Linked DNA regions of Homo sapiens: all the other regions are reported to be linked to region 3. The links are microRNA targets in miRTarBase. Many come from high-throughput screens and were not tested one by one. Region 3 holds a microRNA gene; each other region holds the end of a gene's coding sequence.
What was found. Region 3 holds the annotated microRNA hsa-miR-6726-3p (CUCGCCCUGUCUCCCGCUAG, at 2,333-2,352, opposite strand). A microRNA usually pairs through its seed, bases 2 to 8, with sites in the 3' UTR of a target mRNA and lowers its output. Matches are read on the target gene's strand: a 7mer-m8 pairs with bases 2 to 8, a 7mer-A1 pairs with bases 2 to 7 and ends in A, and an 8mer does both.

Region 1: the mRNA of PAN2 is a reported target of hsa-miR-6726-3p. The part of its 3' UTR that is shown has no 7-base or 8-base seed match.
Region 2: the mRNA of BARX2 is a reported target of hsa-miR-6726-3p. Seed matches in the 3' UTR shown: 7mer-A1 at 2,445-2,451.

The regions. Positions count from the first base shown.
Region 1 is chr12:56,314,597-56,317,839 of GRCh38, forward strand. PAN2 (poly(A) specific ribonuclease subunit PAN2) reads right to left here. Exons shown (of 26, transcript NM_014871.6): 26 at 2,340-3,047. The coding sequence ends at 3,013. It overlaps CNPY2 (canopy FGF signaling regulator 2), which reads right to left and starts at 1,392. Exons shown (of 6, transcript NM_014255.7): 1 at 1,225-1,392; 2 at 534-646; 3 at 255-370. The coding sequence starts at 621. It overlaps CNPY2-AS1 (CNPY2 antisense RNA 1), which reads left to right. Exons shown (of 2, transcript XR_002957416.2): 2 at 1-212. RefSeq lists enhancers at 1,377-1,965, 1,466-1,515, 1,596-1,745.
Region 2 is chr11:129,450,712-129,453,954 of GRCh38, reverse strand. BARX2 (BARX homeobox 2) reads right to left here. Exons shown (of 4, transcript NM_003658.5): 4 at 1,676-2,819. The coding sequence ends at 2,553. Among named protein-coding and RNA genes, the nearest start is that of BARX2, 76 kb to the right of the region's middle. RefSeq lists an enhancer at 137-638.
Region 3 is chr1:1,293,778-1,297,020 of GRCh38, forward strand. It overlaps MIR6726 (microRNA 6726), which reads right to left and starts at 2,393; the gene lies at 2,333-2,393. ACAP3 (ArfGAP with coiled-coil, ankyrin repeat and PH domains 3) reads right to left here. Exons shown (of 24, transcript NM_030649.3): 15 at 2,648-2,856; 16 at 2,434-2,503; 17 at 2,238-2,332; 18 at 1,959-2,161; 19 at 1,670-1,777; 20 at 941-1,039; 21 at 625-851; 22 at 313-422; 23 at 46-156.

The DNA.
Region 1 (3,243 bases), not on the chromosome of region 3:
GATGTGGAGAAGGGTGCTGATCAGGACTCCCTGTTTGCTAACAAATTCTACAGCAGAAACAAAGTATTAAGGTTTGCAGCCAGGAAGCAAGTGCATGGGGAATAAGCCTGCAGCTTCTTCCAAATGAGACAGAGCCAAATCTTTTTTCTGAGTCTGTTTTCTTCATTTCTATTAAACCAAGGTCCTTTTTAAGCAGTCGAATTTCATCCAAAGCCAGAGTGAGCTACTTTGTTTGGGGGAACAGTAACAGTTACCTCCACCACTGACTGGCTGCCATCTGGATTGATCCGGAAAGATCCCATCTGAATGGTCTTCTTGGGGTCCACCTGGGCAATTTCCCATTCTAGTTCATCCACCAGAGCCCTGCATGCTGGTGGAAGAGGAGAGAATGAGAGCAGGGGACAGGGTAGGGGGTAGGGTGTGAGGAGAATGGGATCAACCCAGGATTTCCATTCATCCTTCTCCCAGGCCTTGGATCTCATGCCCTCCCAAGGCTCTGCTTCCTCCACTTCTTTTTCCCGTTGTGCCTTTACCTCCACAGTGGAGATCCTGGCTCCTCCGAGCCCAGGCGGTTCCCAGCAGGGCCCCCAGAAGCAGGGCCAGCCAACCCCAGCCTTTCATCTTTAGCGTAATGGGGTCGCTCCACCTGGGTTTGAGTGGGAATAAAACATAAGTGTGAGGAGCCGACTCCATTTTTCCCTGACCCCCCCAATCCTCACCCCAAGGCTTTCAAAGGCCTCATTGTGACTCTGGCTCTACTTTCCAGGAAATGGCCGGGACACAAAGGGGCTTCTCTGTTCCAGCGCTTGAGGGCTCTGATTCCCCCAGGGTGGTGGGTGGGAGCGCGAGCTCAGGACTTGCGGCTCAGCCCCAGACTCTACGTGGATAGGTGAGGCCCTAAGTGTTGGTACTTTAGCACTGCATGCCTAGGGTTCACGGGGCTTTGTGGCAGCTACAGGAGGTAAGTTGGCGATTACGTGAGGACTACAGGCACTAGGGAACTGCCGGCAGGGAGCCCTCAGTCAGGCCAGGAGGCCAGCGAGGAGAGCAATAACTAGGGCCCATTTGGATCCTGCACCGAAGATTCCTGCGTCCCCACCTCCAGCCCGTAAGTGATTACCCGTACGGACACCAGCCCCCTTTCTAAGGACTCCGCCATTGCTTTCGCTTCAGTCCATCCCCAACCCTCAGCGCCCAGCGCCTCGCCGCCCGCATCCGTCCCACCTCTGCTCCCAGGGCCGCCGCCGTGGCCCAAGCGCTGGAAGACCGCTGGACTCTCACTTTGGCCCCAGTGGCTCCCGAAACTACACCTGGCTGCAGGGAGCAGGGCTGTCCGGGATTCTCCAGAGCGCTTCGCCGCCTGCCACACACGGGGTGTCCCGGCGACCGCCTGACCCAGCTCCCCTGACGCTAACTGGTACCTAAGCGGGACTCCAGCGTGCTGCGGTGCGAGCCCCAATCAGACACCGACCCCAAACCCGCCCCTCCAAACTCTCGCGCGAACAGGCAGCTTAGGAGAGGCTCCCGAACAGCAAGGACCCCGGTCAATCGCCGAAGGACCCAGACTTGCGTGGCGAACAGATCCACGTGACCACCAGGGGTCAGCCGTAGAATAGGAGTGGCCTTAAGCGACGACAGAGTCCGGGCGTGCTGTATGGGAGCGGCTAGTCGTGCGCGTGAGCCAGCCCAGGTGGGCTAGGACCTTCAAAACGGTGCGCTGCCGGCCAGCGAGCAGTCCAGGTTTCAATACACAGGAAACTACATCTCCCAGGAAGCACCGCAGCACCGGACCCATCTTTGTGAGCAACTACAAGTCTCAAGCTATCCTGGGACCTGTAGTTTGTCGGCTTACACAATTAACGGAAACCATACTGTACATCTTCAGTCTGACTTAGGGTACTGGGCAGCTATAGCAAAGACCCAGCATTGCCCAGAAAAGGCATAAATTATACCTTTTTCCCCTTTTTTTGAGACGGAGTCTCGCCCTATCGCCCAGGCTGGCATACAGTGGCGTGATCTCGGCTCACTGCAACCTCCGCCTCCCGGGTTGAAGCAATTTTCTGCCTCAGCTAGGGTTACAGTCGCCATCCACCACTCCCAGCTAATTTTTGTATTTTTAGTAGAGACGGGGTTTCACCATCTTGGTCAGGCTGGTCTTTAACTCCTGACCTCGTGTTCCACCCACCTCTGCCTCCCAAAGTGCTAGGATTACAGAAGTGAGCCACCGCGCCCGGCCTAATTATACCCTTTCATATCCATAACTTTGGATTCCGGACCTTTACCTTCAAAGGAAGGAGAGGAAGACTGAAGCCAGAGAACCCACACTAGCAGTTCTCTAATGAGATAAATAACAAACGATATTTTATTTTTATTTTATAAAACATGCAGTTTACAACAAATTTTTAAAAAATGGAACAAAACTTGGGACAGGCAAGTGGGATGGAAGACAGATGCTTCTCAGCCATCAGCAGGAATAAATGAAGCCGGCAGCCAAGCTTTGTCCAGGATCCAAAGGCCCTTTTGGCAATGGTATTGGCAACACTGGTTTGCTTGGGCCACCAACACTCTACTTGCTGGCCCCTCCAGGTATCCCTGAAGCAGTTGGTGACTTGTGCTAAGTCTTGAACTACTGTGGTATCCTCTGTCACTGTCCAGGACTTCAATCCCTAGCCAGCTAGGAACTTACAGTTATGGTTCCAGGAGCTTCTCTGCCTGGATATTAGTCACCCAGGATATTAAGAATACCAATTACTTTCCATCTGGGTCAATTCTAGACTCCATGTCTGTACCACTGTTTTGCAAAGAATGAAGAAGGAATGAATCTGGCTCCTAGAACCTTTGCAACAATTCTGCTGTGTTCCAGTTCAATTAATAGCACCATCTGTGACCCTAGACCCTGAGCACGTCCAGTACTGGAAGTGGACAAGGTATAGCCAACTTAGGAAGCCATCTCCCAGTTCTGGGGCTATAGAACAGTAAAGGGAGAGGGCCGTGGTTCTTTGGGAAGGGTAGTCAGAGCGCCAGCACTGAGGAGAAGACAGCTGCATCTGTCAGAGACAAAACCAAAAGCATGATTCAAGCTGAGTGGAGAAAAAGCATCTTCTCATACTTCCTATGAAGGAAAAATGCAAGAGAAAAAAGGGCATGGACCTTCCCTGAACATTTTAGACTTGGGCAAGAGGAAGTTATAGTTAATGGAGAGTTTCGATAAAATGTATTTTACTGAATGTTAGGAGGATGAAG
Region 2 (3,243 bases), not on the chromosome of region 3:
GATGGAACACCATCCTGGGAAGCCAGCATCCAGACAGGAGGCCTCTCTGGGGTGGCGCGAATGGGACAGAACACTTCCTTAGGATTGACACAGAACTAACACTGACCCACCGGCTTACTTTGGCCATTGTGCACATTCTTTGGCTCATTGTGACACCACCTGGTAGGCAGATCATAAAACTGTACCATGGGGTGGGCTACAGGTGGAGGAGACAGCGTTCTGCCTGCTTGGTGCAAGCAACCTCGCACAGGCAGCTAGGTGTGGTCTGCTCAAACTGGTTCTCAGAAGCCAAATCCTCCCCTCCTTTGTCTATTCACAAGAGTTAAGAAAAAGACTGCTTTCTCTGTTGATCTCAATAACAAAGGGGATGAGGCACTGCCTTGGCAAAGTCAAAATTGCAGTCACTTTCTGATTGTTAATGGAGAAAAGCAGGCGGCCTGCCAGGTGATGGAAAACACGCGGATCTTTCCTGTTTAACTTTGAAATGAATTATGTGATTGTTTTACAGAAGTAGTAACAGATTTGGCTTCCTTGTTGAGGCCACTGTTGAAAGTTGGTATTCTCCAAGCCTGCAACTGGGCAGAGTTTGTGTGTAATTAATAACTGAGAGTCCACTAAATGGGCACTCGGCCCTGTAAGCCATCACAGGTGAGCACGCTGGGGCAGTGATCATAAAGGTGACCCCTCTGAGATCAGGCTCTGGGCCAGAATGCATGAGAATCAGACAAAAAAAAAACAGAGGCAGAGTCCTCCTGCTAGGAAATCTAGAGCCTCCTTCTTTTTGGTCTTAAATTAACGTGGAACACAATTTTTAAATTTAAAATCACCCAGCACATCTAGTCAAGTAGTTCTCAGGTCTTCTTTTGTTAAAAGTTGCAGAGCCCATCATCCAAATGAATACTTAGTCAAGAAACCCTGGAAAGATGAACAAGAAACCAATAAAAATAATTACCTACCGGGGATTCAGGGGAGGAGAGGGCAGGGTGGAAGCAAGTTTTTTTTTGTTTTTTGTTTGTTTGTTTGTTTGTTTGTTTTGAGACAGAGTTCCGCTCTTATTGCCCAGGCTGGAGTGCGATGGCATGATCTTGGCTCACTGCAACCTCCGCCTCCCAGGTTCAAGCGATTCTCCTGCCTCAGCCTCCCAAGTAGCTGGGATTACAGGCATGTACCACCACACCCAGCTAATTTTGTATTTTTAGTAGAGACAGGGTTTCTCCATGTTGGTCAGGCTGGTCTCGAACTCCCAACCTCAGGTGATCCGCCTGCCTGGGCCTCCCAAAGTGCTGGGATTACAGGCGTGAGCCACTGCTCCCAGCCCAAGACTTCTTTTTTTATAGTTTTGACTTTTGAAGCATATACATTTCTTACCTCTTTAAAAAAGTAAGACCATTGGACGCCCCAAATGTGAAGCGGCTGAGAAGGGAGCTGCTCTGGCAGAAGGCGGTGGGAGAGGTGGAAGGGAGAGCCTAGCTACTCTGCCCTGTCCTCATCCCGGAGGCTCGGTTCCACTCCCACAGCTCTCAGCACTTGGACACCAATGGCCTGGCCCAATCCTTTGTTTTATAGATGGGGAAAAGGTGGCCCCCCTAGTTTGGTTCACTCTCTGGATCTCTCTTCCCATAGGACACATTCAGGAAGGGTTAGATACACTCCTCAGAAGACACAAAACACTCAATCCTTTTGAAAGATTTATTTTTAATTAAAAAATAAAAGTTATCTGAACATATCTGCATTGCAGTTTCAGGGATGGCACCTTAACCCATTTATGCCGAAGGTCACAAATGTTTTTTATGAAAAATCAGATCTTGGTGATGACCTTGAGCAGTAGGATAGAAATAACTCCCACAAGCTTAGGGTTCCAATAATGGAACCCTAGGCATGAATGGGTAAATGAAGCAAAAAACAAAACAAAACAAAAAAAAAACCAAAGCTTATCAGTTCTTGGGTCTTATGACCATCTTATAATGGGTACAAAGGCACACGTGTCTTCAAACAAACTTGATTCAGAAACATTTCTAACAACTCAGAACTACCCCCATGTTTTTGCCCACCCTCACCCCCCCAAAAAAATACAACCAAAAACATTAAATTCTTTTTTAAAACTACAGAAATAAGTGCTGAGTCAGCAAGGAACCTGGGCATGCTGCCCACATGCCGCCACGTCTCTCTGCTTTGATGACTGGCTGCCCAGAGGTCAGGAGGGAGAGAGCTAAGCACTTTCCACTGCATGCTAGGATATAGGGCTTGCAACATAGACCCAGCCCTACAGCCGTCACCCCAGCTGGGGCAGGCAGCTCCTAGGCGCTCTCTCCCTTAATCAAGGGCATCCACAGCTAAAGCAGCCTTTCAGGAGGTGACAGGCCCAAGACAAGCAAGTCTTTGTCAAATGCTTGCGATGACAAGGCCAATGGTAACTGTGGGAGGGAGGGAGACGGGTAGATCTCTTCGCCCGCAGTTTACTGGGCTGCTGGAAGGTTTTCTCTCCCTACTCTCCCTGCCTTCTCTCTTTTCCCTTCTCCCCAGTCTCCCTCTTCCCTCAAAAGGGTTTTACTTTAGCTTAATGGTGGGGGTTCCGAAGAGGGTATTGGCAACTCCTGGGGCGGGTCTGGTGGCTCTGCCATCTCTAAGGGGACATCACGTGCTTTCGGTTCCTGTGCTTCACAGAGCTCCTCCTGCCCCTGAGAGGGCTCCAGCTGCTCCTGACCCTGGGCCTGGCTGTTCATCTTCTCTTCAGCTTCAATCTCTTCTGATGTGGGGATGGAGTTCTTCTTGGGGCGACCTTTGGGTTTTGTGGGTGCTTCCTGTCCACCTTTAAGAACCTACGTGAGTAAAAAATTGTTATTGAATCTAAGAAATAATTCCTTCCCTCCACCTTTCCACTCCCAGTATAACCTCACGTTGCATCTAAACCATCTGTTCCAGCAGTGAAATTGCAGGATTTGGCAAAATATATTCTCAACCCATCACCTCTGGTCTACAAAGACACCTCCATTTTTTAAATGCTCAACGCATTTTTGGTCAACATTATATATTTTGGCATTTAATACAACAATCATAGGCAGCTTCAGAATTCAACTTCAACAATAAGGAAAGAAATGAAAATTAAAATGTTAATGCAATAACTATCAAGTTGACAAGCTAAAAAGACAACAATAATATTTGTAGCAAGCAGGAAAAAAAACACACTGTATGAAAGTGTGATTGTTACACACTTTTCAAGACAACCTGAGAGTTCAAGTCAAA
Region 3 (3,243 bases):
TGCCCTGGAGGCCCCGCCCAGCCCCGAGGGCCCGGCCGCGCTCACAGTGTCACGATGTCAGCGTTGGCCGCCTGCACTGCGATGGCCAACGGGTCCCGCTGCTCTTGGTCCAGGGCGTGCTGGTCCGCGCCCCGCTTCAGGAACAGGCAAACCTGGCTGAGGGGCGAGGTCGGAGGGGCGTGTCGGGGCGGGGCGGGGCGGGGCGAGTGTGGTCGCGGGGGCGTGGCCGGATAGGGCATGGCGGACAGGGCGTAGCCGGGCCGGGGTAGGCGTGGTCGGGGCACAGGGCGGGGCGTGGGTTGCGCGTCTCACCCGGTGCGGCCCAGCAGCGTGGCGTGGTGCAGGGGCGCCCGGCCCCGGCTGTCTCTTTGGTTCACGTCCGCTCCGTTTTGCAGCAGGAACTCACAGACGATCAAGGAGCCCTGGGGAGCCGGGGCAACTCAGACGGAGCCACGGCACCGGCCCCTCTCCGCGCCTCTGCACCCTGACCCCGGCCTTGGGCGCCCCCAGCCGGGACCGAACGTGGTCCCCACCGCGGACAGGCGACCCTTGTGTGGGCGCCACAGAAGATGCAAACGCGACTGTGCACCTGTGTCCTGCGCGCAGCCCCCGTGGCTCGCTCACCCCTAGCACGGCCTGCACCAGCGGCGTCTTGCCCTCATCCTCCGCGTCCGCCCAGTTGACCTCGGCCCCGTGGGCCAGCGCCGCCGCCAGCGCAGGAAGGTCGCGGGCACGCGCTGCGCGGTGCGCCAAGAGCCCCGGGTGCAGCTCGCGCACGTCCGCCAGGCCCCAGGCCTCGGCCTCAGTGTCCCCGTCTGCCTCACCGCTGGACTCCTCCGACTCTGCACCCTCTGTGGGGAGGGGGCGGTCAGGGAAAGCAACCCCCGGGGCTGCCCAGGGGCTGGGCAGGGGCCTCGGGCGAGGGCAAGACGCCACCCACCCTCCTCAGTGACGCTGTCCACCACAGAGCCCGAGCCGAAAGCCAGGACGTCCGAGCTGCCATCCGAGCTGCCCCCAAGGCCACTGTCGCTACTCAGACCTGCAGGTCCGCAGGGAAGGGGGTCCTGAGGGTGGGAGGCCCAGACTCCGTCCAGAGCCCTGGGGCAAGGCTGGAACTCCACCCACCCTCCAGGGGCCACCCCTAGGGACAGGACCAGCTCCCACCCAGGGCCGGGGGGAGCCAGCTGCAGGCTAGGAGCAAAGGAGAGAAAACCAAATAACAGCTCAAAGGTGCCAGGGGTAGCCCCCTAAAGCCCAGGCCTTTTGGGAAGCCCTTCCCTCCCGCTCGCCGCCTTACCCGGCACCCCCCGCAGTGGGCCCCCCAGCCCCGTCTGTGGCTGGCCCAGGCTGAAATGTCTCCACCCAACCAACGGGCAGCATGGCTCCAGAAGGGCCCTAGGCTGAGGGCCGGCTGGCAGCGCCCTCTGCTTCCCCAGCACCCCGGGCCACCCGCTGTGTGCACACACCCAGGTGCACACAGCCCACACACACATTTGCACAGCTCACCCCTGACAGTCAGGGCCTTGGCCTCCAGCTGTGTGGCCAGGAGGCCCCCCGCCCCTTCAGATGCTGCTCCATTCCCTGGCAAGGGCCATCCACACTCAGGCACCCTTCAGGCCAGCCTCCTTGGCCCTGCCCTGCCACCTGGCTGGGCCCACCCCACACTTACTGCGAGGGCCAGCCCCTGCGGCCCCTGCGTCGAAGTAGGAGAAGAGCGAGTCCAGCTCGTCGGGACAGAAGAGGGAGTCTCGGCGGAACTTACGATCCAGGGTGCCCACTGCAGGGGCAGTGCGTGTTCAGAGTGTGGAACAGGCCCGGGGTGGGGCAGGGAACCCCAGGTCACGCCGGGAGTCTGCGGAGCCTGAGGTGCCCCCAGAGCCCTGCCACCAGCCCCTTGACGGAGTCCATCCCCGACCAAGGCAAGCCCCTCCCAGCCCTGCCGGGGCATGGCCTCCCACCTGAGGACAGAGCGGCCACACAGGGCAGAACGGGCTCAAGCCGGACCTTGCGGCGGGCAGTGGGAGCGCGGGGAGAGCTGTGGGGCCGCAGGCACTTCTGCACCCTCCAGCGTCTTGGGGCCTCCAGGGCTGGTGCCATGGGCGCCTTCCGCAGAAACTTCTTTTCCACGTATTTGTCCTTGATCCAGGCCTCCTTGTCCTGCCTGGACCAGGGGGGAACATGAGGCTGTGCCCCCAGGCTGGGGCTCCCTGACTGATCCAGACTGTACCCCACCTCACCGGGAGCTGCTGGCTGTGGGTTTCCTGCTGCCTGCACCCTCACACTGGGCCTCATAGATCTGATTCACAGCGCTGTTTCCAAGCTCACACATCAGCTAGCGGGAGACAGGGCGAGCAGGCATCAGTGCGAACCTGCAGACCCCAGCTCCCGCCCCCACAAACGGGGTCCCGTGGCCTCCAGGAGCCCCACACGCACCTTTAGCAGCTCAGGCTCCCACGAGTCCAGCGTCAGGGACCGCACCTTGGAGCAGTGGACACCCAGGCTCCTGGAGAGCAGAGGTAGGGATGAGTCTGGGGGAGGCAAGGCCCCCAGCTCCGGCCCAACCCCCACCCCCGGCCTGGCCCTCAGGGGCCCACCTGTGGATGCTCCAGCCCAACCCCCACCCCCAGCCTGGCCCTCAGGGGCCCACCTGTGGATGCCGGAGCACTCAATGCAGAGCAGCACGCCCAGGTTGATGCTGGCCCAGCGGGGGTCCGGCTGGCCGCAGTCGCCGCACTGGCTGTTGCCGGCCACACTCTGCACACGCTGCAGCACACTCTCGCCCTTCACGCCACGCTCCCGAGTGTCGGTGGCGGAGTCGATGCTGCTCGTGGACGGGGATGCTGTGCGGTCCAGCCTCTGGAGGATGGGGTGGAGCTGCTCGGTCCCGCAGGGGCTCCAGCATGGTTTCCCCAGCAGGCCCCCTCCTCCCCAGCCAGAAGAGCCAATGCAGGCCAGGGCCCCTCGAGCACACGCCCGCACACGCACGTACACGCGCACACCCTCACGTGGGCAGATGGCCCCCCCCTCGAGCACACGCCCGCACACGCACACACGCGCACACCCTCACGTGGACAGGTGGCGCCGAGCACACGCCCGCACACGCACGTACGTGTGCACACCCTCACGTGGGCAGATGGTGCCGAGCACACTCCCACACGCGCGTGTATACGTGCACACCCTCACATGGGCAGATGGTACCTGCACACACATGCACATCCACACTGCACAAGCCAGCATGCCAGT